4 linked regions of the Homo sapiens genome follow. The protein of the gene in region 1 interacts with the protein of each later gene in a biochemical or structural test. Each region holds a gene or a part of one and is shown in the gene's direction. Other genes may lie near its edges. The genes, in order: OXSR1, WNK4, WDR3 and WDR6.

Region 1 (7,253 bases):
TACATATTTCATATACTATGCATATTTCATATACATATTTCATATACAATGCATATTTCATATACATATTTCATATACAATGCATATTTCATATACATATTTCATATACAATGCATATTTCATATACATATTTCATTTACATAATATAGTTCATATATTATGTATATTTCATTTACATAATATAGTTCATATATTATGTATATTTCATTTACATAATATAGTTCATATATTATGTATATTTCATTTACATAATATAGTTCATATATTATGTATATTTCATATACATGTCATATATTATGTATATTTCATATACATATGTCATATATTATGTATATTTCATATACATATGTCATATATTATGTATATTTCATATACATGTCATATATTATGTATATTTCATATACATATGTCATATATTATGTATATTTCATATACATATGTCATATATTATGTATATTTCATATACATATGTCATATATTATGTATATTTCATATACATATGTCATATATTATGTATATTTCATATACATATGTCATATATTATGTATATTTCATATACATATGTCATATATTATGTATATTTCATATACATATGTCATATATTATGTATATTTCATATACATATGTCATATATTATGTATATTTCATATACATATTTCATATATTATGTATATTTCATATACATATTTCATATATTATGTATATTTCATATACATATTTCATATATTATGTATATTTCATATACATATTTCATATATTATGTAATTTCATATACATATTTCATATATTATGTATATTTCATATACATATTTCATATATTATGTATATTTCATATACATAATATATTTCATATATTATGTATATTTCATATATTATAGATTTCATATATATTATATATTTCATATATTATAGATTTCATATATATTATATATTTCATATATTATAGATTTCATATATATTATATATTTCATATATTATAGATTTCATATATTATATATTTCATATATATTATATATTTCATATATTATAGATTTCATATATATTATAGATTTCATATATATTATAGATTTCATGTTATATATTTCATATATATTATAGATTTCATGTTGTTTCATATATGTTATATATTTCATATTTCATATATATTTATATATAGTATATATACTTCATACATATTGTCTATATTTCATATATAATACATATATAATTTCTTTTTTTCTTTTTTGAGATGGAGTCTCACTCTCTGTCGCTAAGGCTGGAGTGCAGTGGCATGATCTTGGCTCACTACAACCTCTGCCTCCTGGGTTCAAGCGATTCTCCTGCCTCAACCTCCTGAGTAGCTGGGATTACAGGCGCCAGCCACCACGCGTGGCTAATTTTTGTATTTTTAGTAGAGATGGGATTTTACCCTGTTGGCCAGGCTGGTCTCGAACTCCTGACCTCAGGTGATCCACCTGCCTGGGCCTCCCAAAATGCTGGGATTGCAGGTTTGAGTCACCGTGCCAGGGAGAAAAAAACAAAACAAAATAAAACAAAACAAAACAAAAACAAAACTGAAGTATGTCCATGGGTCATACAACTCAACAACCCCAAGCCAAGAATTTCTGGTTTGTAGACCTTTCTATTGGTACAAACCTTGAGGCTAATTCTTACCATCAGATTTAGCTCCTTTCTGATACATTTGATCCCCATCCCTCTCCTCCCTGCAAAAAGAAAAAGGCAGAACATATGGTAAAGAAACTGTCAGTAGTAATGGCTGAAAACCACTTACAGCAAGGCCTGTGCTATGCTTTCTGGAACTGCGGCACCTTTGCTGAGCCTGGACTATTCTATCCTCTAAATGTGCACCTGTTGAAATCATGTTAACTTTGCAAGATCTGGTACAAATGCTACCTTCTTCATGAAACGTTCTCCAATCCAACCAACTAGGTGGAAACCCGCTAGTAGCTTCTAGTTGACTGGTTTCATGGTCAGTTGGACCTCCCACAGCAGAGCTCAGCGCAGAGCTTCCAGTGCTTGGCGGTGTTTTAGAACCAAACTAAGGTCTACTTGCCCAGTGCAGTGACATTAGATTGCCACACGGAGGTTTTGCTGCAGTAGAAAGGCAGGGCGCCTAGCAAGAGGGGAGAATTAGTGTAGCTCAAGCTTAATATATATATAAATATACATTATATATAATACATATTTCATAAACTTATGAAATACATACTGGGGACCTAAACTTCCTGGCGTGAGCCACCGCGCCCAGCCAAGCATTCTTAAAGATAGGGGTAATTTCGGAAAAGAAGAAGTTACAGGTAAAGTCATAAATCAATACACAGAGGTTATACATTGGTTTGACCTAAAAAGGGGGGACATCTCCAAGCAGGAGCCCACAGGTCATAGGTGGATTCAAAGATTTTCTGATTTGCGATTGATAAAAGAGGTGAAGCTTTGTCTAAAAATTTCGGATCAGTAGAAAAGAATGTTAGCTACAGCTTGTGGGCATGACCTTCTTCAGGAAGAAGAAACTTAGAGAAAAAACAAACCACCAGTCAGAGTTCAGTCCTTAGCTCCCCATTCTCTGAGGTCTATGTGCCAGCAGATCCATTTGGTGGGGGTCTGGGTTTCTAAAAAACAACTCAGGGACATGTGTTGATGTTATCTTTAGTTTTTATAGGGAACCAAACATCCAGTTATTTTAGTTTCTTTGGCTAATGTTTAAAGTTATTACTGCCCTCTTGCTTATCAAGGGGTTCATTAACTTTTCAAGGCTAGCTAAGTGCCGGGAATTTCTCTTGAAGTAACTCAAGATTTTCCTTTATTTCCATGGTTGAGGGCCTGCAGGCCCTAAAAGGGGTCCCTGCTCCGTCTCAGCTGGGCCTAGGTGAAGGTCTCTTCCTTTTTCTGAGACGGTGTCTCCGTCTGTTGCCCAGACTGGAGTGCAGTGGCATGCTCTCGGGTCACTGCAACCTTCGCCTCCTGCTTCAGCCTCCCTAGTAGCTGGGATTACAGGCGCCAGCCACCACGCCCAGCGATTTTTCTGTATTTTAGTAGAGAGGGAGTTTCACCATGTTGGTCAGGATGGTCTCGAACTCCTGACCTCAGGTGGTCCGCCCGCCTCCGCCTCCCAAAGTGTTGGGATTACAGGCGTGAGCCACCGCACCCGGCCTAAGGTCTCTTCCTTAAAGACTGCCGTTGGACTGAAAGGTGTCCAACCTAGAACAGTTTCGCACCTAGCCCTATCCCTGTTGGATGCTCATTATTTTTTAAAATCCAATTTACCAAGCGTGTTCAGTCTTCAGCTCGCTAATTTCTCTAACGGCCGTACGTAGTCAAACTGAGAAAACTGTTCAGTGGGGGCGACAAAAGCCAACGCCCGTGAGACAACCCCCAAATCCGTGGGTCGATCTCACTTGTTTAATACCCCAAGCCCTGTCCGGGGGGAAGAAAGACAACCTCCCGAGTCCCTCAAGGCAGGTGCTTATTTGAGCTTCAGATCTAAAGCTGCGAATGGACAGAACCCGCCCAGTGCAGGGTGGACCCGCGAGAGACAGCGCCGCGACAAGCGTTAGAGAGAACGTCCGCCTTGAAAAAAATGTCACCAGGCAAACTTCCAGTTTCACTCCGACCAGTGGCCCAAGGCCTTTTATCCTAGTTGGCAGTGGTCCACACCCAAAGGCTACCCCACCCAGCCGCTCCCTCAGGGTTTCTCCACACCCTGTAGAGCCTTTCGCACGTCTCGAGGGTGTGACGGTTACGCCGTGACGTCACTCCAGAGGAAGTGGTAAGACGAGCGCGGTAACGGAGCTCTTGAAGGGCTGCAGCCCTAACACGGAGAAGCGCGCTAAGAGCCTGGAGGCGGGACCAATTTATGACTGACGTCTACCCACACCCATTGCTTTTCTGATTCCTTCTCAAACAAACCAATGAATGCGACGACGGAGACAGCAGCGTGCCCCAGGCGCTAGAAGTGGCTCTGCCCCTTCTACTTTGCTGCCCTTTGGTCGCCATGCTTAGTGTGGCTACTGCCTCTGTGCTACTTGAGGCTCTCCTACGGCTTTTCGATGCCTTCGATGAACCTCTACCTAAGCACTTCTTCCCTTTCACCGCGAACTCCTACCTTCTCGGGTTTCTAGCTTGCTCACTTTACATCCAGCCACACTGGAGATGGCGGCCGGAGGCGGGCCCGAGGTGGGGCGTGACCAGCGCAGTGACGTCAGCGCGCTGCGTGTCGGCAGGTGGAGGAAGAGGGGAAAGTTTGGCCCGTGCGTGGGGCTGGGGTGGAGGGCGGGACAGAGGGGCTGGGCCCAGGCAAAGCTTCTGTCGCTGCTGCTGCGGAGGCCGAGGACAGGACGTGGGCTGGGCCGGGCAGTGCCGGACTCGGAGGAGCAGGAGGCGAGGTCCGCCGGAGCTCTGAGCCCCCGCTGCTCTGCCGCGCGGTGACCCCGCGCCCCGGCGCCGTCCGACCCGTGGCTGTTCCGAGACGATTGGTGGGGGCGCGGCGGCGGCGGCGGCGGCTGTTGGGGGTGGGGAGACGCGCGGCGAGGAGACGAGCGAGGTCAGCGAGTTTGAGGGAGGACCGCGAGCCGCTGCCGCCGTCATGTCCGAGGACTCGAGCGCCCTGCCCTGGTCCATCAACAGGGACGATTACGAGCTGCAGGAGGTGATCGGTGAGAGCAGGCGCTGCGGAGGGGGGAGGCGCGGCGCTGGGAGGCGGGGGACACGGGAACGTGGGGAGCCGCGGGAGCTCGGGGAGCGCAGCCCTCATAGGAATTCGTGGGGCGCTTGTGGGGCTGGGGGCTTGTAGGACGCTTGTGTCGAGGAGCGCGTGTGAGACGGGAAGGGGGTTTTGAGGCGCGCGCCTGTGAGGTGGCGTGGGGTGGGGTGAGGCTTGAGGGGGCTCAGGAGAGATTTGTGTACAGGATTCTCAAATGTGTGGACAGGAGCGGCCCATGTGTCTTGTAGAGAAAGAAAGTGCAGGTGTGGGACAGGCCTTTCCGAGGCTGTGTGAGAAATGGGATCTTGAAGTGGGCACAGCCATCGATTTCTGGGATTGTGGGATAGATAGGGAGCTTTAAGTTTTTCCTCCATCCGTGCTGGGGCGAACTGGGGATCCTCCAGGTGAAGCTGCAGGAACCGCGCTGAGCAACCGAGACCCAACTTACGACTCCTTCCAACTGACTTTCCAGTCGGGGAGGTAGACATTAAATAAGAAGACAAAAAGAAGTAAGAAGGGCTGGGCGTGGTGGCTCACGCCTGTAATCCCACCACTTTGGGAGGCCGAGGCGGGCGGATCACGAGGTCGGGGGTTCGAGACCAGCCTGGCCAATATGGTGAAACCCCGTCTCTACTAAAAATACAAAAATTAGTTGGGTGTGGTGGTGCGCGCCTGTAATCCCAGCTACTCGGGAGGCTGAGGCAGAAGAATCCTTGAACCCGGGAGGCGGAGCTTGCAGTGAGCTGAGATCGCGCCACTGCACTCCAGCCTGGGCGACAAACCCTGACTCTGACTCAAAAAAAAAAAAAAAAAAAAAAAAATTTGAAGAGGCTTTGGCAAGTGCCATGAAGGAGATAAACAAGATGTTCTGATAGAGAATAACCTGGAGATCTACTTAGGGTGATTTCAAGGAAAATTCTTTTTCTGAGGCGATAACATTTCAGTTGAGCCCTGAAGCATGAGAAGTGAGGATTAAGAGCCTCGGGAAGATTTTTCCTTACAGAGGGATATAGAGATGCAGTGGCCTTGAGTAAGGGAAGAGCTTGATTTGTTTTAGGACCTGAAGGAAGGCTGGCAAGGATAGAGAGGGAAGGGAGGAGCCAGATCTTAGGGATCTTCTCAGCTTTGGTACAGATTTTGGAATTTTAAGTATCACTGGAGGCCCTCAAATAGTGCCTTGACGTGATCCGATAAATTGGGCTGGTGTGTGAAAAGATTTGAAGGGGGTCCAGGAATACCAGTTGGCAGAGACCAAAACTTGCACATAGATTGTAATTCTCACAGAAGCCTAGGGATTGGGAGGAGGCTGGGGACTGGGGATGAGGGGAGTATTTGTTGGACAACAATAACCCAGTGACCTTGGAAATCAAAATGTTTAGCTATACAGGCTCAATCCAACGGACATGAGCAGACACCTGTGTATTGGAGGAAGGCGAATTATCTGCTTTGCCAGCATCCTGCCCTAAAATTAGTTTTATAACAAAGACCAACTGAAGACTTCCTAGCTGCCTTGGGGGTGTCAGTGTTTATTTCACTGTGGGTTTAAAAAGAACTTCGTGAAATAATTTTTGTTTTTACTTGCCTCTTGTTTTAAGACAATCTGGGCTTAAAGCAATATTGGTTCGTATAGGAAAAACAAAAACAAAACAAAACAACTCGGACTAAATAAAGACATCACATCTTTGCTTAAGCCACTTCATGGGCCTGTGTCCTTGCTACATATTGGGTCTTTGACATGTATTCGTTGGTTCTAAAGACAGCTAGTTCCCGGTCTGGACTGATTGCTTCTGGTTCCCCCAGTCAGAGTTTCATATTGAAGGAAAGGATTAAATGGAAGATTCCAAAATGATGTCAGAGAAGTAAAGAGGAGGTTCCCTATCATCATTTTAAAAGAAGAGTTTTTTTTTTTTTTTTCTGGTAGTGTATCCATCTTTCTAGGGTGAAGAGGATGGTTGTAGTCATTCTCAAAGCCTTTGCTGTTAAGGTGGCAGAGAATTTCAGAGTTGCAAAGGCGCTAGAGATTTCGTGATTTGTTAATTTGGTGTCCTCAGACCCATAGGATGTCTGTGAGTGGGCAAAAGGGAGTCTCTCAGTCTTCTGGATAGGGTTAGTGTTCCTCACATTCACAAAGTGGTCCATGGTTTTTAAAAGGTTAGGAACTCCAATGTGATTTGACCATCTTTCATAGATTTAAAACAACTTTACTGAGGTATAATTTAATATAAAATTCACCCATTTTAAGTGTAACATTTAGTGGTTTTTAGTAAATTCCCTGTGTCGTACAACTATCACCATAATCCAGTTTTAGAATATTTCCATCATCCCCGTGAGATCTCTTGTGCTTTCTTACGAGTTAATCCCTTTTTCCACCTCCAGCCTTAGACAACCACAAATCTACTTTTTGTCTCTATGGACTTGCCTTTTTTGGACATTTATATAAATGGGATCATATAACATGTGGTCTTTCATGTTTGGTTTCTTCCACTTAGCATAAATATTTTTTCATTTAAAAAAACAATTTTGAGATATAATTTACGTACCATAAGATTTACCT
Region 2 (7,021 bases), on another chromosome or scaffold:
ACTCATCATTCAAGATGCAACACAAAAGTATTTCCTCTCCGAAGCTCTCCCTCATGCTTGGGGCAGTTAGTCATCCCTTCCTGCGCTCCCACAGCACCTTGGCCGAGGCCCTATCTATCAATTTACTTCCCAACCCGTTTGGTAACGTCATGTCTATCCACCATGCCCCCTGACTCAGTTTCTCCCTGGGGCCGGGCAGACATAGGCTAGGAGAATGCTGGCAGAAGATGCGGAGGCGGCAGCAGGGTGCGGCAGGGGGGAACTTCCCAGTGGGGGGCTCCTTCCCGGAGGACGTGTCCCCCCACCAGGACTCTGGCTATGCGCCCTCCCCCAGGTACCTGAGGCGGTTCCGGGAGATGAAGCCGCGGGTCCTTCAGCGCTGGAGCCGCCAAATCCTGCGGGGACTTCATTTCCTACACTCCCGGGTTCCTCCCATCCTGCACCGGGATCTCAAGTGCGACAATGTCTTTATCACGGGACCTACTGGCTCTGTCAAAATCGGGGACCTGGGCCTGGCCACGCTCAAGCGCGCCTCCTTTGCCAAGAGTGTCATCGGTGCGTCTCTCCAGGAGGGTCCATGCCATTCCTTCCTCCCCCACCTCAGAAGAGAACCTGGGGACTCCCTCCCCTCAGCAAGGGCCTTCAAGGTCCACAAAACTACCAGACGACAGGGAAGCTGAGGAGACCTATGGCACCCACCTCAACCCCACTGTGGGCCGGGGTCACTTGCACTCGCAGGGTTGCCTGGGGCTGCCTAGCCCAGTGGGAAGGACGAGGCCAGAGTGCCCAGCAATCTGATCCCTGCTGTGGACCCTACAGGGACCCCGGAATTCATGGCCCCCGAGATGTACGAGGAAAAGTACGATGAGGCCGTGGACGTGTACGCGTTCGGCATGTGCATGCTGGAGATGGCCACCTCTGAGTACCCGTACTCCGAGTGCCAGAATGCCGCGCAAATCTACCGCAAGGTCACTTCGGTGAGAGGGATGGGGCTGGCGGGAAAGGCAATTCCAGGGCCACTTCCCCTTTTCCTGCGCCGGCCAGCCCGCAGTCAATGCCCTTTGCCTGCACGAAAACAGGCTAGACACAGAGTCGCCTTGGTGAACACAGAAGGATATTGAGTGCACACGCGCCCCCACCAGTACACGCTATTTAGAATAATAATATGTGTGGTGCTCCCAAGAGTTCACAAATGATTTCGCATCCCATCTCTCATCCAATCCTTCCAGCTGCCCTGTGAGGTGAGCGGGGCAAATGTTCCACCCTGCGATTTACAGATGAACAAACAGCGGGAGACTTGTTCAAGATCACACTGTAAATACTTGGGGGGGGGGCGGGGATTAGGATTTGAAATCACATCTTCCAGTAGCAGTCAGGCTTTTGCAACTGCACGCGCAGCTGCCTAAGGAGGGAGTGGAGTAAGGGGTGGGGGGTGGTGTCAAGCCGAGAGCTGGGGATCAGAGGACGGGAGGTGTCATGCAACCCCTTCCCCAGGGCAGAAAGCCGAACAGCTTCCACAAGGTGAAGATACCCGAGGTGAAGGAGATCATTGAAGGCTGCATCCGCACGGATAAGAACGAGAGGTGGGGGTGAAAGGGCAGAGCGTGGGTAGAATAGGGCCGCGGGCCGCGGCGGGCTCGGCTCACCCACGCGTCACCCTCAGGTTCACCATCCAGGACCTCCTGGCCCACGCCTTCTTCCGCGAGGAGCGCGGTGTGCACGTGGAACTAGCGGAGGAGGACGACGGCGAGAAGCCGGGCCTCAAGCTCTGGCTGCGCATGGAGGACGCGCGGCGCGGGGGGCGCCCACGGGACAACCAGGCCATCGAGTTCCTGTTCCAGCTGGGCCGGGACGCGGCCGAGGAGGTGGCACAGGAGATGGTGAGCGGAGGACAGACTGTGCTGCCACTGGACGTGTAAAGGACATTGACTCGAGGGGACAGTGCAACAGGGATGGGGCGCAGGAGGGGTGGCAGCGATGGGGGCGGGGCACCTCACCCCTCTCAAAATCTCCTGCAGCGTCTCCCTACCTCTCCAGCCCTAACTTACCCGCACGCACACCCAGTTTTCCTTTACAGAGGGAGCCCTGGGTCCTCCAGCGTCCCTGCTTTACCTCCAGCTGATCTGTTCTTCCTGGGATGCCCTTCTTGCCAATTCATCTTTTCCTTCTTTCCTCCCTCCCCATTTTTCTTTTTCTTTTTCTTCCAATATGATCAGAACCATCGATTTCGGGAAGCCGTCCCCTTTGGAGTCAAACTTAAATGCTTCTTTCCACTTCAGCATGTTCTCGGTTACAGCACTCCCCACTATCGGTCCTGTCTTAAACCTGAATAAGTTCCTATCTTTCTTCTCCACTAGACTATAAACTCCCTGAGGGCAGAGACTGTGTTTTATCGATTCTTCTATCCCTGGCAGTGCTTGGCACATAGTAAGAGCTCATTAATAGCCTACATCTGTACATGGCTTAAAGCACTTTCACATGCATTTGATCTTTGCTACCCATCCTGCATAGGGGGCAGTTTTATCTCAACTTGTTGATGAGGAAATGGAAATTCAGAGAGGTTGAATACCTTGTCCAGGGCCCCAAGTAAGTAAGTGGAAGAGCTGGATTGAAACTGAGGTGGTTCAGATTTTAAATCAGGTTACCCTTCCCCACCTCCTTTACTCATTCAGCAAAGCTTGCGGCTAAAAGGAATGAGGAGGTGATGAATGGAAGCTGGTAGAAGGGGAGAGGCATAAGATGCAAGGGCAGAAGCTTGGGGGCTGGCTTAGGAAGTCCTGAAGGGAGTATGGGATTCTTTTTTTGGGAGTAATGGAGTCTCACTCTGTCACCCAGGCTGGAGTGCAGTGGCGCTATCTCAGCTCATTGCAACCTCCGCCTCCTGGGTTCAAGCAATTCTCCTGCCTCCGCCTCCTGTGTAGCTGGGATTACAGGCAAAAGCCACAACGCCCAGCTAATTTTTGTATTTTTAGTAGGAACGGGGTTTCACCATGTTGGCCAGGCTGGTCTCGAACTCCTGACCTCAAGTGACCCACTAGTCTTGGCCTCCCAAATTGCTGGGATTACAGGTGTGAGCCACCGTGCCTGGCCGAGTATGGGATTCTTAATAGAGACATGACAGTTGCAAGGGTGGAGACCACCTACGGTAGGTCAAGAATCTGAGAATGTGTTAGAAATTTAGAGCAGGTCTCCATAGCACGGCCCAACCTGACCTGAGATCAAATCTTGATCCATTGCTGACAAGGGATTCTTGGCCTTGGCACTGTTGACATGTTTGTTTTAGGGACTGTCCTGTGCATTGTAGGATGTTGAGAAGAACCCCTGGCTTCCGCTCACTAGATTCAGTAGCACCTACCCTCCAGTTGTGGCAACTAAAAATGTCTCTAGATAGTGCCAAACATCTCTTCTTCCCATTGGAAACCACTGACTTACTGTATAACTATGAACCAGCTACTTCATTAATCTCTAAAAATCGAATGGTAAGATTTATCCCACAAGGTTGTTTGGAGGATCTAGTGATGATAATGTAAGGAGCTGCCAGTTAACAGACATAGTGGGTAATCAGTAAGTGTTGGTTTTCTTCCTCCCATATCCTGGAGTTCCCAAGAAGGCGTCCTGATGGATCTTTGATAGGGGGTCCCAAGCTGTGTTCCTCATCCCCCACCCCAATTCCAGGTGGCTCTGGGCTTGGTCTGTGAAGCCGATTACCAGCCAGTGGCCCGTGCAGTACGTGAACGGGTTGCTGCCATCCAGCGAAAGCGTGAGAAGCTGCGTAAAGCAAGGGAATTGGAGGCACTCCCACCAGAGCCAGGACCTCCACCAGCAACTGTGCCCATGGCCCCCGGTCCCCCCAGTGTCTTCCCCCCTGAGCCTGAGGAGCCAGAGGCAGACCAGCACCAGCCCTTCCTTTTCCGCCACGCCAGCTACTCATCTACCACTTGTAAGTCACCCCTGATCTTGAGACGTAGGTCCCAGAACACCTTGGCCTCTGCCCCCTACCCAGAAGTTCACCCCCACAGCAGTCACTTACCCTGCCTTCCACCTCTAGCCATGAAGCTCCCTCCAGGAAGGAACTCTCCCACAGCTCCAGGCCCCTCCTTGCTTAGGCAGGCCCCATCCTCTGCCACTATTCCCTTTTATTTCCCCTTTTTTTGATCCTCTCCCTCCCCAACCAGCGGATTGCGAGACTGATGGCTACCTCAGCTCCTCCGGCTTCCTGGATGCCTCAGACCCTGCCCTTCAGCCCCCTGGGGGGGTGCCATCCAGCCTGGCTGAGTCCCATCTCTGCCTGCCCTCGGTGAGAGGGGGTCGCATGGGGGGCTCCCAGCCATTCCAAGCCTATGACCTATCTCCCTCCTTGTGAAACCCAATCTCATGATCCAGTCCCATGTCCCTGGAAATCCACCATTCTTGCCCTCCTCTTCCCTAATTCCATCTCCCTAATATCCTCCCAGCATCCTTGACACCATCTCCCTAGATCTCAACAGTTATCTTCCCCTGACCTCATGAACCCTTATCCTGTTTCAGGCTTTTGCCCTATCCATTCCACGTTCTGGCCCTGGAAGTGACTTTTCCCCCGGGGACAGGTATGTTCTGGTACAAGTTGGGGTGCCAGGGTGAGACACCTGGGGCACTGGGGTCCCAGTGTCTGCTCTGACAGTCATTCTCTCTCCTTTCTCTTTAACAGCTATGCCTCAGATGCAGCTTCAGGCCTTAGCGATGTGGGAGAAGGGATGGGACAAATGAGGAGACCCCCAGGGAGGAATCTCCGGCGCAGACCCCGATCCCGGCTGCGGGTCACTAGTGTAAGGATGGAGTACAGGAGATAGAGAGTAACCTACAGGGCCAGGAGGGAAGTGTCAGGGGGAGGCGGGGGAGGTCACCCAGAAAACGGGAGAAGCAGTGTATGACTAGTACTCAAGAGGCGGCCAGTCTGGTTTCTAATACCAGACTTTAGAGGTGGGGTCTACTTATCTCCAAGTCCATTGTGGCTGCTGTCACTTGGCTGGGGTAGGGTGGAGACACAGCATGATGAAGAGGGCTTGACCTTCTCCCCTCTGCTGACTTTGAATCTGAAGGTCTCAGACCAGAATGACAGAGTGGTTGAGTGCCAGCTACAGACCCATAACAGCAAGATGGTGACCTTCCGATTTGATCTGGATGGGGACAGCCCGGAAGAGATTGCAGCTGCCATGGTGAGGGGGAGAGAGATGAGGACAGAGTGTTTGGATCTGGAACAAGAGTCTCCTTCCTGATGTCCGCTGGGGCTGAAACCCACTGATCCGACAGCAAGCATTTTTAAATCTCTGGTTGACACTTAGCACAGTAACGCTGAAGATGTCTCAGCCCTTGTTTTGGGGGAGATTTCTGTTTATCCAGTGAGGTTTGGCTTCTCAGCTGGAGCAATTTGAGACTCACATTGACCGGGTACACACAAGTGCTACGTATAAGTGCCTGGTAGATGTGCAATACTGTGGCTGTAGGTGAAGGATGGACTGGGCAGCAGGGGCAATGAGCTTACCCAGGATCTTGGCAAATGGGCAAGAAAGGCTGTGAAGGGTGGAAAGGCCATGAAGGGTGTCCCTGTGCAGGGACAGCATAAGCAAAGGCATTCCAAGTAGAGAGTGTCTTGGAATATGGGGCTGGGAGGGCTTCATGAGGAAACCACTATCACTGGAAGTAAAGATTCCTATAGGAGAGTTGTGGGGAGTGAAGCCGGGTAGGTAGAGTGGGCCCAGATTGTAGAATAGACAATGTTAAGAGTTAGGCAGAGGCCAGGCGTGGTGGCTCACACCTGTAATCCCAGCACTTTGGGAGGCCGAGGCCGAGGCAGGCAGATCACCCGAGGTCAGGAGTTCAAGACCAGCTTGGCCAACATGGTGAAACCCCGTCTCTACTAAAAAATACAAAAATTAGCTGGGTGTGGTGGCGCATGCCTGTAGTCCCAGCTACTTGGGAGGCTGAGGCAGGAGAATTGCTTGAACCCGGGAGGCGGAGGTTGCAGTGAGCCGAGATCACACCATTGCACTCCAGCCTGGGCGACAAGAGTGAGATTCTGTCTAAAAATAAATAAATAAATAAATAAATAAATAAATAAATAAATAAATAGAGAGGCAGAGCAGGCTAGGTCCAGTGGCTCACACCTGTAATCCCAGCACTTTGGGTGGATGAAGTAGGAGGATTGCTTGAGCCCAGGGGTTCAAGACCACCCTGGTAATATAATGAGACCCTATCTCTACAAAAAATTTAAAAAATTAGCCGTGTGTGGCGGCACATGCCTGTCATCCCAACTACTTGGGAGGCTGAGGTGGGAGGATCACTTGAGCCTGGGAGGTCAAGGCTGCAGTGAGCTTTGATCACGCCACTGCACTCCAGCCTGGAAGACAGAGTGAACTTTGTCTCAAAAAAAAACAAAAACAAAAAAACAAAAAGGCACAGTGTAACGTGACAGTAGGCTTTATGAAAATCATCTGCCATGGGATGTGGAAGGGGGAAGGGAAAATACCTGGGAGGTAGACCCAGGAAGCCATCTGTGGACAAAGGAGAGAGTGGCTTATGGGAGGGAAGAGGAGAAAGGGTGAATCTGAGGGTTGTTTCGGGAAAATAAGTTACTCTGTAATCCAGTAACCTATTGACGTAGTAGAGAACATAGTACATAGTAGATGCTCAATAAATATTTGCTGAGTTGATATGATTGGGAGTTAGGGAGAAGGGATGTCAAGGACAACTTGTAGGCCACCAAAGGAGAGTAGGAGAGTAGGCCACCAAAGGAGAGAGGAAATTAGAAATGAAAGAAGGTTTTTTTTAAGGAGGTCATGATGAGCTTGAGTGAAGAAGGGACAGCCAAGACAAGACCCTCCATAGCCATGGATATGGGTCAGGCAGGGCTGGAGAGATGTGGATGGAGGAGTAGTCAGTACAGAGTTGAGAGTGAAGGGAGATGAGCCGGCAAAGCCAGAGACACAGAGGGTTGCAGAGTGTGTCTCAGCGCATACCACCAGTTCTGGAGTGGGAAGCGGGA
Region 3 (7,825 bases), on another chromosome or scaffold:
ATGACGCTTGACAAAAGTTCATAATTTCAAAAAATTACCTGCAGATTTTTTATGACAATGAGTCATTGTCATAAAAAAGCTCTTAGCTATAATCTAAAAACAAATCCATTAAACACAAACACAGTTTTCAGTTTGTAAACTTGAATGCCAACTTTCAGGACAAAATTGCTTTTTTAAGATAACTTTTCTTTCTGACTCTAAGTAATACATGCTTACAGAACATTTGAAAAATACCAAATCGGTTGGACGCAGTGGCTCACACCTGTAATCCCAGCAGTTTGGGAGGCTGAGGCGGGGAGATCACTTGAGCCCAGGAGTTCAAGACCAGCTTGGGCAACATAGTGAGACCCCATTTCTACAAGAATACAAAAAACTAGCCAGGTGTGGTGGCATGCATCTGTAGTCCCAGCTACTCAGGTGGCTGAGGTAGGAGGATTGCTTGAGCCCAGGAGGCAGAGATTGCAGTGAGCTGAGATCACACCACTGCACTCCAGCACGGTGACAGAGCAAAACCCTATCTCAAAAAAGAAACAAAACAAAAAGAAGGAAAAGAAACCAAAATTAAGGGGGAGGAAAAAATTCCTCAACTTTTGATGTAGTTACTACCTTTTTCTGTGATAGGTAAAATCATACTGGTACAATTTTGAATCCAGTTTCTTTAGTATTTTAAGGTAAATATTTCCACACACAATTACACAGTGAGGCAGAGACAGTATGGTTCGATGTGAGAATTTGGACTCTGTTATCATAGGGTCTGAGTTTGGATCCAGGACCATCATCTAATAGTTTTGTTATCTTTGACTCTGAACCAGTTTTTTAATTTCTAAAATAAGGGTAATTCTCCTAAGATTATTGTGAGCATTCAATGAGATAACTGGTGTCAAAACTGCATAGGAGAACAATTACCTTAACTTCCCTCCAACTCAAAATCATTCACTGTTTCCAACTTCCAAGTGACGATTTGAGGGTATATTCCACACGTTTAAGCCCACCAAATCACTTTAATTTAATCAATTTCCTTCATTTGACCATTTCTCCTCTTAAGAGAGTGTTACAACATAAATTCTCCTTTTACAATTACATCTTGGCTTTTTCCTTCCTCTCAATCCTCCTGTTCTCAAAAAGGTTTTCCTCCTTTATTTCTTCTACTTCATTTCTTCTTCAGAATACTAAACTCCTTTTTACCACTTGACTTTTTAAGAGTAATTTGTTTTGTAGCTCTACTTCCTCTTCGTACATTTGCCCAACCTACTGCAGTTTTGCTTCCGCTCTACAGCTATACGAAAACTACTCTATTCAACAATAACTTCCCAAATGTCAAATCCAAGAATTAATCCAATTTTATCCACATTTATTACTGATCATTTCCTCCTCAAAACTCTATTATCTTCTTTGACATTATACCCTGGTGGTTCTCCTATATCCCTGATCATACCTGGTCAGTAGAGTTTGTTGGATCCTTTTCCTAGCTTTTAAGTAATTGTGACCCACAAGATATTGGATGTTAAATAAGTAAAAGTAATGCTCATAGCTCTTATTGTAGGACAAAATTTAATGGCATTTTATGAAGTGTCACAGTATTTAACAGAGGTTGAATTCTTTTTCAACTCCATCTCTAAACAGAATTGATGTTTCTCACCAAAAAGAGGTTTGAATCTCTCCTTCCCCTAAACACATATACACCTTAGTAATACATACAGTAAATGGAGCCACAAACCCAAGCTAGGCAGAAAAACCTGATCCCTGAGAGAACAGTGGTTTTTAACATTCTCAAGGTCACAGGCCCCTTTGAGAATCACATGAAAGATACAGATCCTTTCACTCCCCAGAATATTTGTATATGAGCTCATACAAGTAGATTTGTAAATAAATTTGAATTAGAATCTCAGTGATAGAATGCAAACAGATTGCTTAAGTGACAAAGGGAGGAGGAGAAGGCTCCTACACCCAGTAATCTATAGCCACAGCCAGAATTTTTGCTAACATTAAAGGAGAGCAAGACTGTCCACTGAAAATCAGTTGATCAGCTCTGTACTTTTAATAAGTTCATAAACAAACACTAAGCCCTAGTTAAAAAAAAAAAGGCTCTTGAAGCAAGACATTAATTTCCAAGGATCAAAAAGTCTACATGGGACAAACAGAAGATTCCATAATGAATCAAATCTATTTCCATATCCATATGATCTTCAGTACTTTAGTGAAGAGGACCTAAAGACAAAGATAACCCACTATGTATCTTTTATAATTCAAATGGTGCAGTGTAAACAGCTCTCATTACACTGTAACTTGTTTTTTTTTTCCTCAAATCCTGTCATCTTTTAGTTTAAGAAGTCCTTTAAATACTGCTTAATATGAATAATTGGATTGGCTAGAGAGATCAGATTTTATTGTTCAAAACTGGGCAAAATTGGGCATAATACCTTGGATCACCATCTCAAAAAAAACTTTTTTTCTGGATAGAAAGAAAATGATATCATTTAAGAGAGAAAAATGGTAACTTTTAACCTGTTTACCTGTCTTTCAAAATGCTTACATTGATCAGACCAGCCTGGATAACAACAGTACAAAGAGAGCTGGTGCATGCACTTGACCGCCATTAATTACCGGGTTTACCATTCTTTATGACTTTGTATTTCAATATTTAACAGTTCAGAGTACATGAGGATATGTGTGCATACCATACTTAAGAATCATTTTATGCCACCATCCAACACCATACTTAAGAATCATTTTATGCCATCAGAAAGACATTTTTTAAAAAAGATTTTCAGATTGGAAGACTAACTGAAGTAGTCAAATATGTCAACAATAAATACAGTATAACAAGAACATTCCTAAGCTTGTCAATGGCTTGGGTCAAATTTAACATCATAATTCAAAAGCACCCAAAGAACATATCCTAACAGTAAATTAGTAGTACCCCTTCATATTAAATGAACTGCACTATGTTTTAATTGTAAATATTGATATATTAGGCATTTTGAAACTTAAATAAGGAAGTAGAGTTACATCCTTGAAACATTGTATAAGGAATTTTGTAAGATGCATTACCTTACCACTCACAGTTGCTCTGATACCAACTCTTATTAAAATCATTTTTTTCCATCTGTGGTTGTCCCATCCCATAATATTTAATAATATTAAGATAGTTTTTTAAGAAAAGGTAAAATCATGACTCATTCAAATATAAAACCAAACCCGTGTTCAAGATTTTATTTAACTCAAAATGGAACCAGGCAGAGAAGATAAAGAAAATCCCAGAATTAGACACCTTAGAGCAGGAATATTGAAATAAATGTGCAAAAGGAGGCAAAACTTCCACTGAATCTCTGAGAGAATTCGCATGTCTTGACAATAATTATTTAGCATTGATGTCACTTACCTAGTTTACGTAACTGAAAAATAGCTTTTTTAGAATTAGTTATTCCAAGGGGTGTTAAGATAGAATCTAAACTATGTAGTTTTCCATTGAAGCACACACTTCTCCCCATAATAATATAATGCACAGCACCTGTCAGGGATATTAACCATACATACCCACTCAAATGCTCCCTTTCCCACCAAGCTTATTAAAATAATAGTTTGTGGCCACAATTTCTTCCCTTCTCATTTATCCAATACACAGCAATCTTGTTTCAAAACTCCTATGCTGCTACAGCTGTCCACAGTCTCATCATACGCATTCTTTGCTATTGCAATTTTCTTGAATATGGAAGATTAGCTGAACATGCATTAAGCTCAGGAAACTCTAAAGAAAATCAGATAATGTAGACAAAAGTCTAATTTCTAGGCTGGCTGCAGATACCTTGTTCAAGAAGCGCCGGCAGGATCTTCTTTTGTACAGCTATGTTAGCTTTAATTTTGCACAGCTCTAGACATCAGAACTCATTTCTAAACACTTCTATGCAGCTCAAGAATAAAAGTAGCAGAAATGCAAGAGAGAAAAGCTAATTCCCACTTGGTGAAAGAGCACTTAAGTCTCAGTGAGCAAACAAGGAGGAGTCAGCCTTGGTCACTTCCCCCTCAAGCGGCCAGAGAGCGGAAACACAAAGCCAGGCCAGTGTCACTCCAGGGATTGCGGGAACCTAGACAACGCACCATCCTGGGCTCAGCGTCTACCCACCCCTCACCCGAGGTGCTCTCGGTTCCGTAGAATGTCCAGTCCACAGGAACGGCAACACGGACTTGTCTTTGGGACTACAACCAGCAAGAGCTCCCGCCTGCCCCATTTCACCTGCACCCTAGGGCGCCCGCCTCCTTGGCTACAGCACCACTGTTCCTAGTGCCCGCCGACTGCCCACCCTTTCACTTCTCGTAGAGACGGCGTCCCCGACAACGCCTCGGGAAAGAACCTAACCAACATGCGAGGAAGTGGCGCCAGGCTCGTTCTTCAAGAGAAGTGACAGAACTAACCCTCAGCCTGCAATCCTGACCAGGGCCGAGTCCCGAGCGCCTCGGACCGCGCCCCCGGCCCTCTCCGCCCCGCCTTCCCTCCCGGCCTCAGTCCCTCCTCTCACAGCACTCTGGTGGTCCCATCCGGGCGGCGGGCGGCACGGATCAGGCTCCTGGTAGAAGGCGGCCGAGCGACATCTCCGGCGACCCTCAGCAGGAGCGCGCCGAGTACGGCGAGTCAAAGTCCCAGGAGACTGGAGTGACCAGCTGCAAATGCTCTGGGCTGCGAAACACCGGCTTCCGCTCCTGGCCAGAGCTCACCAATCAGCGCCCGGCTTTCTCCGTCATTTCCTCCTAGAAGGCAAAGGGAACCTCTGGCGGAAGAGGCTTCCGGAACGGACCCGGAAGGGGCAGGTCTTGTGGGCGGGTCCAATCGGCTGGGAGCCTCGTGGAGGCTGAGGTGAGTCCTGGAGGTGCGTGGTTGGGGCGGAGAGCATTATCTGCGGCTCCGATTTTGCAGATTCTGGCTGAGGCGTTCGTGATGTCAGCAGCAGCCGAGACGGGCGTGTTAAAGGCCGGTTGCTAGGGCTGGGGGAACTCAGGTAACTACGGGCGTCCCCACAGCAGTACTTGGAAGCCCCTCAGCTACTCGGCGCGGTTGCGGGTGCTGAGCAGAGCTGCCTGACCGTGCGTGTGCACGGGCTGGCCTGAGGATGATATGACCGTGTGTTCGGTGTGTGGAACCCTCCGTCACCCTCCCCTGACCGAAGACTCGTTTAGGAATGTGTGGCAGGTCTGTTGCCACGGTCCAGGCCTTCAGTGCATCTTGGAAACATCGTTTTGGGGGCTGTAGGTTAGGAAGCGGAGATCATGGGGTCTCGGAAGAAGGTTTGGTCGTGAACTGTCAGAAAGGAGGCGAAAGCTGTGCACGTGGAACAAAGTGAACAGTGCAAGTTGTATGGGAGGTAGTTTAAATATCGAGGCGATGAAAAAAGGCTGCTAGAATTGGGCTTACTCGAAAGGAAGTGGGCCTCAGAAGATAATATTAGTTAAAAGAAGTAGAGGAGAACATGGATGTTATTCTAAGTAAAACGAATAATATGAAGAATACAAGGTCGCGGGACGAGGAAGGAAACTAGCCAGCCTGACAGGAAGGTTTATTCGAGAAATACGGGGGTTAGATAGGATGAGTTTTTGGAAACTGGCAAACGATTTAGCCTTTTCAAGGCTTTAGGATAGGGAAAGCTCATTTGAAAAGATTAGTCGGTAGTATTATGACGTTTAAATGAAAAGAGTGAAAAACATGGAGGCGGAGGTGCTAGGTGGAAAATCAGTGCAGTAATCCAGTGATAAAGAGCTGGAACTGAAAGTGCTGGAGAGAAAGGGATCCTGTTTCAGAGTAACAGTCAGGTGGAATTGACTAAAGAGAAAGAGGCAAAGAGAAGCAGTTTAGCATAGTGGTTAAAAGCAGAAATTTTGGAGTTAGACTGGCTGGATTGGGATCTGGCTTTGGCAATTAGCTGCTAAATGACTTTGAGTTAGCAATTTGCCATCTCTGGGTCTGAGTTCCTTGTCTGTAAAATAGAGATAGGAAGAGTGACTTCCCTTGTGGTGTTATTGTGGAGAATTTGTTTATTTATTTTTAGAGACAGAGTCTCACTGTCACCCAGGCTGGAGTGCAGTGGCGTGATCATAGCTCACTGCAACCTCGAACTTCTGGACTCAAGTGATCTTTCTGCCTCAGCCTCCCCGAGTGCGTCACCATGCCTGGTTAATTTTTTAAAAAATGTTTTGTAGAGATAGGTTCTTGCTGTGTTGCCTATGTTGGTCTGAAACTCTTGACTCCTAGGCCTTGGCCTCCCAAAGTGCTGGCATTACAGGCATGAGCCACCATACCAGGTCCTTATGGATAATTTTTTTATGCTCATATTTACAATGTGCTAGAGGCTTTTCTAAGTGCTTTGCATATGTTAGCTCGGTTTCATTAATTGCTGTATGTAATTAAACAATTGCATAATGTTATCAGTTACTATAGCGTAAGCACTCTCTAAATCTTGGCTGCTATAATAATATTTTTTTATTAATAATTCAAAGGTTATTAAATGGTTTTGAGCCTGAAGAGCTGGGAAAATTGTGTCTTAGTGTCAGAAGAAAAGAGAGGGGTACCAGAAGTAAGGTAGGCTTGGTTATAGACATGTTAAATGTGAAACTATAAGGTATTCAAGTGGAGATGTTCAGTAAATATTGGAAACTCTATAATTAGTATTCATGTAGGTGGAAAGGACTGGAAATAGACAGATGGGAGTCCCTGGACCTAGGCATGCTATATGAATTCTCCAAGGAAAACACTGTAGAAGGAGGTGGTAGATGGCCAAAGACAGACAAACATAAGGAACAACTACAGAGTCTGGAGGAATAAGAGGAATTGGGAAAGAATTAATCAAATGGCCTAGGCTAAGAGCATTATCACCATGTTAATATTATCTTTCCTTGATTTTAAATTGGCTTTATGTTGGTTCCTGTGAGAGAAGCAATGAGGCCAGTAAGTGATTATTACCAGAAAATATTATCAGAGAGTTGAGATTGAATTTTTTTTGTGTTAGACTAAAACAGCATTTGATAATTAGAAAGACCCTGTAGAGTTAAGCCAACCAACCAAAGAAACAAAAAACAATAGCAAAAAGAAACAGCTCCTCATAAAAGACTGTAACTTCTTTATTTTTGTGTGTTTTAAGTTGCATGGGTGTTTTTTGGGGATACTTTTTACTCTTCCATGTAAAGAACAGATGGGACTGATTTGTTATCTCCTTCATTCACCTCTTGTCCCTTTTATAAATAACCAGTGGATTATGGATTTTCAGTGAATTTAATAAAAGTGCAGAAATTATGGCATCTTTCCAAAAATAGTGTGCCAAGTTGCTCAACCATTTTCTATGCCAAGGGTAAGTGGCTGCTCTGATTTTGAAATGAAGGACAGACTTTCATGTACTAGTAGTTCTCAAAGTGTGGTCCAAGAACTGCAATAGCAGCATCACTTGGAAACTTGTTAGAAATGAAAAATTCTAGGCCCTACCTCAGACTTATGAAATCAGAAACAGGTGCTGGGAGAAGAGATGAGATGGTGTTTTCTAGCAATGTTTTCATAAGCCCTCCAGGTGATTTGGATGTATACTAGAGTTAGAGAACCACTGTACAAGAAGGTAAGTACCATGAGGTTAGGGATTTTGCCTTGTTAATAGTGTATTTCCAGTGTCTAGAATGGTGCCTGTCTAATTGGTAGGTTTTCAATAGATATTCATTGAAAAATATGTTCAGTCTCAGACTGCCAATCTCTGTGTAAAAGCTTTGATGCTGGTTTAATGGGCAGAAGTAAATCAGTTTAGCTGCATTGAGCCTATAATGTCAGATATGCATGAGGTGGGCATGACAACGT
Region 4 (7,324 bases), about 11 Mb from region 1:
CGCCTAAAATGGTAGTGCTGCTACCTGTGCTAACTGCTGGGGAGGGGTGGGCAGGGAAGCTGTCATGCAAGTGGTGCCCCCTCTGGTAATAACTCTCAGGAGGTTTCTGAGGTGTGGTCATCACCCTCATGCCCAAATTCTGGACCAAGAGAGGAAGATACAGCAGTTAGAAAGGACTTGGAACAGTGGCTTTGCGGCTGGTGAACCAGAGTGAAGAATCTGGCCGTGACCTGTGGCTGGATGGCTGCCACACTGCTATAGGCCCCAGAACAGAGGTGGTGACAGTCTCACAGCCCTTGAATGTCCCCCACCCTCAGAGGAATCTGGGCCAAAGAGTGGAAGGTGATGTCCTTGGGTCAGCCAGAATAACATGGAGCAAAGATACCAACTACTCTTCCAGAACCCCAAGAGGGTAGAACCCCTGCTTAATGGTTTGAGCAGGGACAGTGGAGAATGTTCTCATGAGAGGGGGTGGCCTGACTTTCGTTGCTAAGGTGGGCTGGTAACGCAGTAGGCAGGGCTGGCGAAGTAGGTTCCACCCAGGATGAAACCTGGGGTCATGAGGAACTCCCCGGGGGCTGGCCCTGCTTGCACCCTGGCGTATGTATGTAAGGCCCTGGATGAGGCCCAGCACTGCCTGCTCTCTCCTCACCCTCCACAGGCCGGAGAGTGGCCACCACTCTATATAGCCAGGCTGGAAGGCCAGGGTCCTGGCCATATGGCTCAAGCTTCCTTTGGAGAACCTTCTCTGGCCACTCTAATAGGGGGTGGGCCTCTTTCTTCTTAGGGCCAAATTAGGGCTTAAACTGAGAAAAGGAACTGCTCTGGGTCTTCCTGTAAGGCCTGATGTGACAGAAACCAGGTTCATCTGACCCAAAAGTCCAGGTGGGGGACAAGTGTACAAGGCCCCTCAGTGCCTGAGGTCAGGGGCTGCTGCTGCCTTTGGGGTAGGTAGGGAAGTGCAGCCTGCCACTGTTGCCTCCCAATATGGGCTTGGTGGGCATTGATGGTGGGTGCCCTGTGCAGGAGTGCTGAGTCTGCAGGAGTTCTCCAACATGGACCTTCGGGACTTCCACAAGTACATGAGGAGCCACAAGGCAGAGTCCAGTGAGCTGGTGCGGAACAGCCACCATACCTGGCTCTACCAGGGTGAGGGTGCCCACCACATCATGCGTGCCATCCGCCAGAGGTGAGCACCTGAAGCTGTTCTCACTGGAGCAGGGGGAGAAGACTGGGCAGGGCCTCCACAGAAGTCCTTGTCTGGGGCCAAGAGGACAGAATGGATTAACCCATTTGGGATTAAGTTCCATTTGTTAGACCAGGATTGGGACCCACTGAAAGACAGGCAATTAACAAAGGCAAATTAGCCCTCCTTGCAGGCACACAATGGGCAACTGGGGTTAGATAGAGATTGAGCACTTCTTTCTGATTAGATAAATGACCTCTTATCTTTGACCCCTTATCTGACCCCGTCACAGCAGGAAAAGGGTTTTTAAATAAACAACTTTCTTCCAGGGAGGAGGACCTCAGGACTCCCCGCCCCCTTTATTTAGTGGAAATGTCAACATTTCCACATAGCAGGTGTCTCTGTCTTTGGCATCTGAGGGAGAAGGATCATCATGAGTAACCCCCTCCTGCTCTTACAGGGCCAGTCTGAGATGGCTTAAGGGACTTCCAGGGGAGGTGGGTAGGGGCAAAGCTTGTGGCAGGCCTAGGGTCCACCTTGGCCAGCTCCTTCAGATCACCACCTTGCCTGGGGCTGCCCAGCCAAATGCCTGCTGCCCACCAGGGTGCTGCGCCTCACTCGCCTGTCGCCTGAGATCGTGGAGCTCAGCGAGCCGCTGCAGGTTGTTCGATATGGTGAGGGGGGCCACTACCATGCCCACGTGGACAGTGGGCCTGTGTACCCAGAGACCATCTGCTCCCATACCAAGCTGGTAGCCAACGAGTCTGTACCCTTCGAGACCTCCTGCCGGCAAGTATCTCCCAACTGGGGGCTGCCTTCAATCCTCAGACCAGGAACACCCATGACACAGGCACAGCCCTGCACTGTGGGCGTGCCCCTTGGCATGGGGCCAGGAGATCACTGGGTTATCCCGGTTAGTGATGCCCTCACCTCTCCCCACAAGTTGTTTACCCAATGGCTGGAAAGGGGTGGCTACTGGTCATCGTGACCACTGGAGTCAACACAGACTGATGTACCCACAGACACCAAAACTTGCCCCCTGAGTTCTGAAGCAAGGGGCAAGGCTGGGCCCCTAGCTTGTCCTGCCCATTCCTCCAGGTGTTGATCTTGATTCCACTTAGAGAAGCTGAAGCTGTGCCTCCCTCCCCTGTCAAGCCAGTTCTTTCCTCTTCAGGTGGCTGTTCTGGCCCAGCCCCTTCCCATCCCCAAGGAGCCCTTCAGCGCGCCCTGTTGCTTCTGCTAGCCTACCTTTCCCTGCCAGGCCCTTGCTCAGGGCCATGGCATTTAACTAAGTGCACCTGTGATCTTGGCCAAAAAACCATTGCAACTCACAGTAAGAGACTGGGTTTCGGGGAAGGAGGGGCTAGGGACATTTTGGCACTGGCCTGCCCTATTGTCTCCCATCCTAGTCTGTCCTGGTCCCTGGCAACAGGAACCTGGGCAGCTTATCCTGCCCACAGGTAAGCCCCTGGGAGCATCCACAACTGGGGACCTGCTCAGTGCCCCCCCTGCCTTACAGCTACATGACAGTGCTGTTTTATTTGAACAACGTCACTGGTGGGGGCGAGACTGTTTTCCCTGTAGCAGATAACAGAACCTACGATGAAATGGTAAGGGTCAACTGGGCTATTACTCTTGTGGGCTGGCAGGGGCTTAGACAAGTGAAGTACACACCTCTCCAGGTCTAAGGATGTGGGCCCAAATTATTCCTTGGGCATATCTGGTTGGTTTCCCTTTGGTCACCCTTGGCTGGCCTGGCCATAGAGTGGGGACAGGTTGAACACCCCACCACCCTGCTGCCCACAGAGTCTGATTCAGGATGACGTGGACCTCCGTGACACACGGAGGCACTGTGACAAGGGAAACCTGCGTGTCAAGCCCCAACAGGGCACAGCAGTCTTCTGGTACAACTACCTGCCTGATGGGCAAGGTGAGGGCCTATGGCCAGGCCTGGGGGGGGTGCCCTGAGTACAGCTTCCCTTTACCCAGCCCCCGTCTGCCACAATGGAGGGCTGTTTCTGGCTGCTTTCCAAATAGTTTTCTGCTCCTGGTGCCTCCCAAAGGCCATCCTTAGTGACTTTAGCAGACTGCCCCAGGACCTGTACTGCTTATTGGGTTATATCCATCCCTATCATTCCCTGATGCCCCAGCCTTCCTACTCCCTGGGGCTTGGGACACATGTCCCTTGCTAACCCAGGATGGGAAGGGATATGGACAGGCCCAACAGCAAGAAAGCTGGTTTCAGAGGGCCAGTAGTGTTGACTATACATTAGTGGGCTGAGATGAGGAGCCTCCAAGGAAGCTTTAGGTCTGGGTGTTTGCTACACAAGGAATGCATAGCTGGACCCACCTTGGTCATGCTCTTGGTGCCTATGAGGCCAAGCTCTGGCCAGCCCAGCCTAGGATCTCACGTCACCCTCCTCTTCTAGGTTGGGTGGGTGACGTAGACGACTACTCGCTGCACGGGGGCTGCCTGGTCACGCGCGGCACCAAGTGGATTGCCAACAACTGGATTAATGTGGACCCCAGCCGAGCGCGGCAAGCGCTGTTCCAACAGGAGATGGCCCGCCTTGCCCGAGAAGGGGGCACCGACTCACAGCCCGAGTGGGCTCTGGACCGGGCCTACCGCGATGCGCGCGTGGAACTCTGAGGGAAGAGTTAGCCCCGGTTCCCAGCCGCGGGTCGCCAGTTGCCCAAGATCAGGGGTCCGGCTGTCCTTCTGTCCTGCTGCAGACTAAAGGTCTGGCCAATGTCTTGCCCCACCCCGCCAGCCGCGATACGGCGCAGTTCCTATATTCATGTTATTTATTGTGTACTGACTCCATCTGCCCCGTCAAATAAAAAACCACAAGGTTCGAGCCGCCGGGCCCGACAAACTCCGGGTCGGCGAAACAGAGTCCGCGATAGGTGCAGCGGGCTGGCAGCTGGGAGCGCCCCGCAAGCGTCACGTGAGGGGGCGAGGGGCGGGATGCCCCTCCGCGGGCCCCGCCAATGATGAGCTGGATTGCGTGGGACGAAGGGTCGTCATTGGACAACCGCCGCGGGCGCCCTGGTCTCTGCTACCTGTAGCTGAGGGCGCTGTTGATGGGCAGCGCGGCGCGCTGGGAAGGCTCGTTCTCGCGAGAGTTCAGCTCCCTTCTTAGCCGTGGCTGCCTCAGCACCTCGAGGATCGACATGGACGCTCTCGAGGACTACGTTTGGCCGCGGGCAACCTCGGAGCTTATACTCCTCCCAGTGACGGGTCTGGAGTGCGTGGGGGACCGGCTGTTGGCGGGTGAGGCTTGGCTTGAGGCACGCCTGGTGGAAAGGGGGAAAGAAACAGCGCCTCCCAGGGGCGGTGCCACAGGGACAAAAGGGGTGCCCTGAGGAGAAGGACGGGCAGCAGGTTGAGGCCGATCGGAGGTGGGAAGGGAGCCCCGGAGATGGCGGGGACGAGGGCCAACCTGAAGAGGGCGGGGCCCGAGAGACAAAGCTGATGTGGCCGCCGCGGCGCTTCATAAACTTCAGCCCGCGTGGAAAGGGCGGGTGGAACCGCGGGAGGGTGCAGGGGAACGCGGCCGCGCGGAGGCGGAGGCGGAGGCCCGGGAGCTGAGGGTTGAGGGGGTGTGCTCCCTTCTAGGAGATGGGCGGGGGCTTGGCCTCTCCGAAGGAGACGGGGCCGAGCTGGGGGGGGCGGAGGGAGGAGGAGGAGGAGGAGGCGGAGGCGGCCCCGGCCCCTCAGGGGGTGTGGCCTCTTGGGGAAGGCGGGGCCGGGAGAGGGCAAGGGTGTGGCCTCTCGAGGGCGGGATGAGTCTCTTCCCCCTAAGGTGGGGGTGAAGATCCTCTGAGGAGGGTGGCGTCGCGGAAAACGGCGGATAAGACCTTTCCGAGTAGGGGGCGGTGCCCGGGGAAGCAGGGGCTGAGACCCCCTCCTGAGATGGTTGAGGTCCAGGAAATCAGGTGTGGAGGTCCCTCCAAGGAGAACCGGGTCGCAAAGGACAGGCGAGGCCTGGGACCTGAGGTGTCAGAGTCCAGGCTGGTCTCGAACAGTCATTACATGAAGCCACTAATGACCCATGTTGGTGCTGCTGAGTTGTATAAGGGTCCTGAGGCAGGGCCTTGGCGGTCAGGCCTTGAGTGAGTTGCCACCAGTCCTAAGAGGGTGTGTGTATGGGGTGGGGATGATCCAGTTTTGATCTGGTGTGGGGGTTCTTGGAGCGCGGAGTTCCTACCGCGAGCTAAACTCCTAAGGCTCCTTGAGGGGGAACAACGAAGCAGAAACTCAAAGAACCACAAGAGTGAACTAGGAAAAGGGGTGAGTTCCTGGCAAGAGGGTAAGCATGCCAAAGGCCTTGAGGCTGGAAGAATCTGTCATTTTGGGGGAAGGAGGGAATTCTTGTGAAGTTAGAGCAGGAATGGAGTCTGGGAGGAAAGGAAGCTGGACAAGCGAGCAGAGGCCACATTGTTTCAGGCCTTGATCTGACTTTATCCCTAAGGGCAGTGGGGAGAACCTATTGAAGGGTTTTAAGGTGGGGAATAACTTGGGAAATGCAGTTTAAGAAGCTCTGCAAGTGAATTCACCTACTTCTGTGGCTTCCAAAGTGACTTTTATATAGCTACAATTCTGTGTGTGTGTGTTTTTTGTTTGTTTGTTTGTTTGTTTTTGAGACAGTCTTCCTCTGTCACCCAGGCTGGAGTGCAGTGGCACGGTCTCGGCTCCCTGCAACCTCCGCCTCCCAGGTTCAAGTGATTCTCCTGCCTCAGCCTCCGGAGTAGCTGGGATTACAGGTGCCCACCACCATGCCCAGCTAATTGTTGTATTTTTAGTAGAGATGGGGCCTCACCATGTTGGCCAGGCTGGTCTCAAACTCCTGACCTCAAGTGATTCGCCTGCCTCAGCCCCCCAAATTGCTGGAATTATAGGCATGAGCCACCATACCCGGCCTCTCTAGCCTCTTCCTGAGCTCTTCATTTCCTGTTCCATCCACCATACTCAATGCTCTTGCCCATCTCAGGGCAATCATACATGCTGTTTTCTCCACCAAGAAAGCTGCAAACCCTCCCATTGCTCCCCACCCCCCCCCCCCCGCCCCAACATTTCCCAGTCCCCCTCTTCCGCCTCCTTTCCTCTGGCTAACTGCTGCTTATCCTTGAATCCTAACTCTAAATATTGTGTCCTCAAGTTGGCCTCCCCTTACACTCACCCAGTCTTGTTAGATTAGACCAGGGTTTTCTCAATCTTGCCTCGATTGACCTTTTAGACCAGATAATTCTTTGTTGGAATGCTGTTTGTGCATTGTAGGATGTTTAGCATCATCCCTGGCCTTACTTGCCAGTAGCACAACCCCTGGAGACAGCCGTACGTGTCTCCAGCTATTGCTAGATGTCTCCTGTGGGGAAAGTTGCCCCCTGTGGAGAACCACTGGATTAGACTTTCTCATTTTACATCTTTTATTTTCTTTTTGCATTGTCAAAATCCTTCTCATTTTATTTTACTTTTTTTTTTTTTGAGACAGAGTCTTGCTCTATTGCTCAGGGTGGAGTGCAGTGGTGCAATCTCAGGTCACTGCAACTTCCACCTCTTGGGCTCAAGAGATCCTCTCACCTCAGCCTCCCAAGTAGCTGGGACTACAGGCATGCGCCATTATGCCCAGCTCATTTGTATAATTTTTTTAGAGGTGGAGTTTTGCCCTGTTGCCCAGGCTGGTCTCAAACTCCTGGGCTTAAGCGAGCCTCCTGCCTTCCAAAGTGCTGGGATTATCGGTGTGAGCCACTGTGCCAGGCCCCATCTCTATTTTTTTTTTAATTAAAAAAAAAAAGTGAGGTGAGGAGGAGGCTCTGAGTTTGAGAAATTTGTGGTTGAAGTGAACATCAAGCGTGACTGATGAGGCTGGGCGCGGTGGCTCACGCCTGTATTCCCAGCACTTTGGGAGGCCGAGGTGGGCGGATCATGAGGTCAGGAGATCGAGACCATCCTGGCTAACACAGTGAAACCCCGTCTCTACTAAAAATACAAAAAATTAGCCGGGCATGGTGGCGGATGCCTGTAGTCCCAGCTACTTGGGAGGCTGAGGCAGGAGGATGGCGTAAACCTGGGAGGCAGAGCTTGTAGTGAGCCAAGATCGCGCCACAGCACTCCAGCTTGGGCGGCAGAGTGAG

The links.
Region 2: the proteins of OXSR1 (region 1) and WNK4 are reported together in a solved structure, tested with the Homo sapiens proteins (2 studies listed by BioGRID and IntAct, with this or other methods).
Region 3: the proteins of OXSR1 (region 1) and WDR3 interact in a test that uses a peptide from one of them, tested with the Homo sapiens proteins (one study listed by BioGRID).
Region 4: the proteins of OXSR1 (region 1) and WDR6 interact in a test that uses a peptide from one of them, tested with the Homo sapiens proteins (one study listed by BioGRID).

Annotation. Positions count from the first base shown.
Region 1 is NC_000003.12:38,161,295-38,168,547, forward strand, and holds the start of OXSR1 (serine/threonine-protein kinase OSR1), read left to right. Parts: upstream 1-4,242; 5' UTR 4,243-4,582; coding exon 4,583-4,652; intron 4,653-7,253. UniProt on the Homo sapiens protein: Effector serine/threonine-protein kinase component of the WNK-SPAK/OSR1 kinase cascade, which is involved in various processes, such as ion transport, response to hypertonic stress and blood pressure.
Region 2 is NC_000017.11:42,783,603-42,790,623, forward strand, and holds part of WNK4 (serine/threonine-protein kinase WNK4), read left to right. Parts: intron 1-334; coding exon 335-555; intron 556-819; coding exon 820-977; intron 978-1,494; coding exon 1,495-1,583; intron 1,584-1,663; coding exon 1,664-1,880; intron 1,881-3,675; coding exon 3,676-3,940; intron 3,941-4,175; coding exon 4,176-4,297; intron 4,298-4,527; coding exon 4,528-4,586; intron 4,587-4,687; coding exon 4,688-4,805; intron 4,806-5,078; coding exon 5,079-5,195; intron 5,196-7,021. UniProt on the Homo sapiens protein: Serine/threonine-protein kinase component of the WNK4-SPAK/OSR1 kinase cascade, which acts as a key regulator of ion transport in the distal nephron and blood pressure.
Region 3 is NC_000001.11:117,924,931-117,932,755, forward strand, and holds the start of WDR3 (WD repeat-containing protein 3), read left to right. Parts: upstream 1-4,808; 5' UTR 4,809-4,852; intron 4,853-7,825. UniProt on the Homo sapiens protein: Part of the small subunit (SSU) processome, first precursor of the small eukaryotic ribosomal subunit.
Region 4 is NC_000003.12:49,003,072-49,010,395, forward strand, and holds the start of WDR6 (tRNA (34-2'-O)-methyltransferase regulator WDR6), read left to right. Parts: upstream 1-4,319; 5' UTR 4,320-4,360; coding exon 4,361-4,460; intron 4,461-4,533; exon of another isoform or gene 4,534-4,588; intron 4,589-7,324. Other genes in the region: P4HTM (transmembrane prolyl 4-hydroxylase), read left to right, coding at 1,027-1,189, 1,790-2,099, 2,647-2,796, 2,993-3,116, 3,616-3,836. UniProt on the Homo sapiens protein: Together with methyltransferase FTSJ1, methylates the 2'-O-ribose of nucleotides at position 34 of the tRNA anticodon loop of substrate tRNAs. Required for the correct positioning of the substrate tRNA for methylation.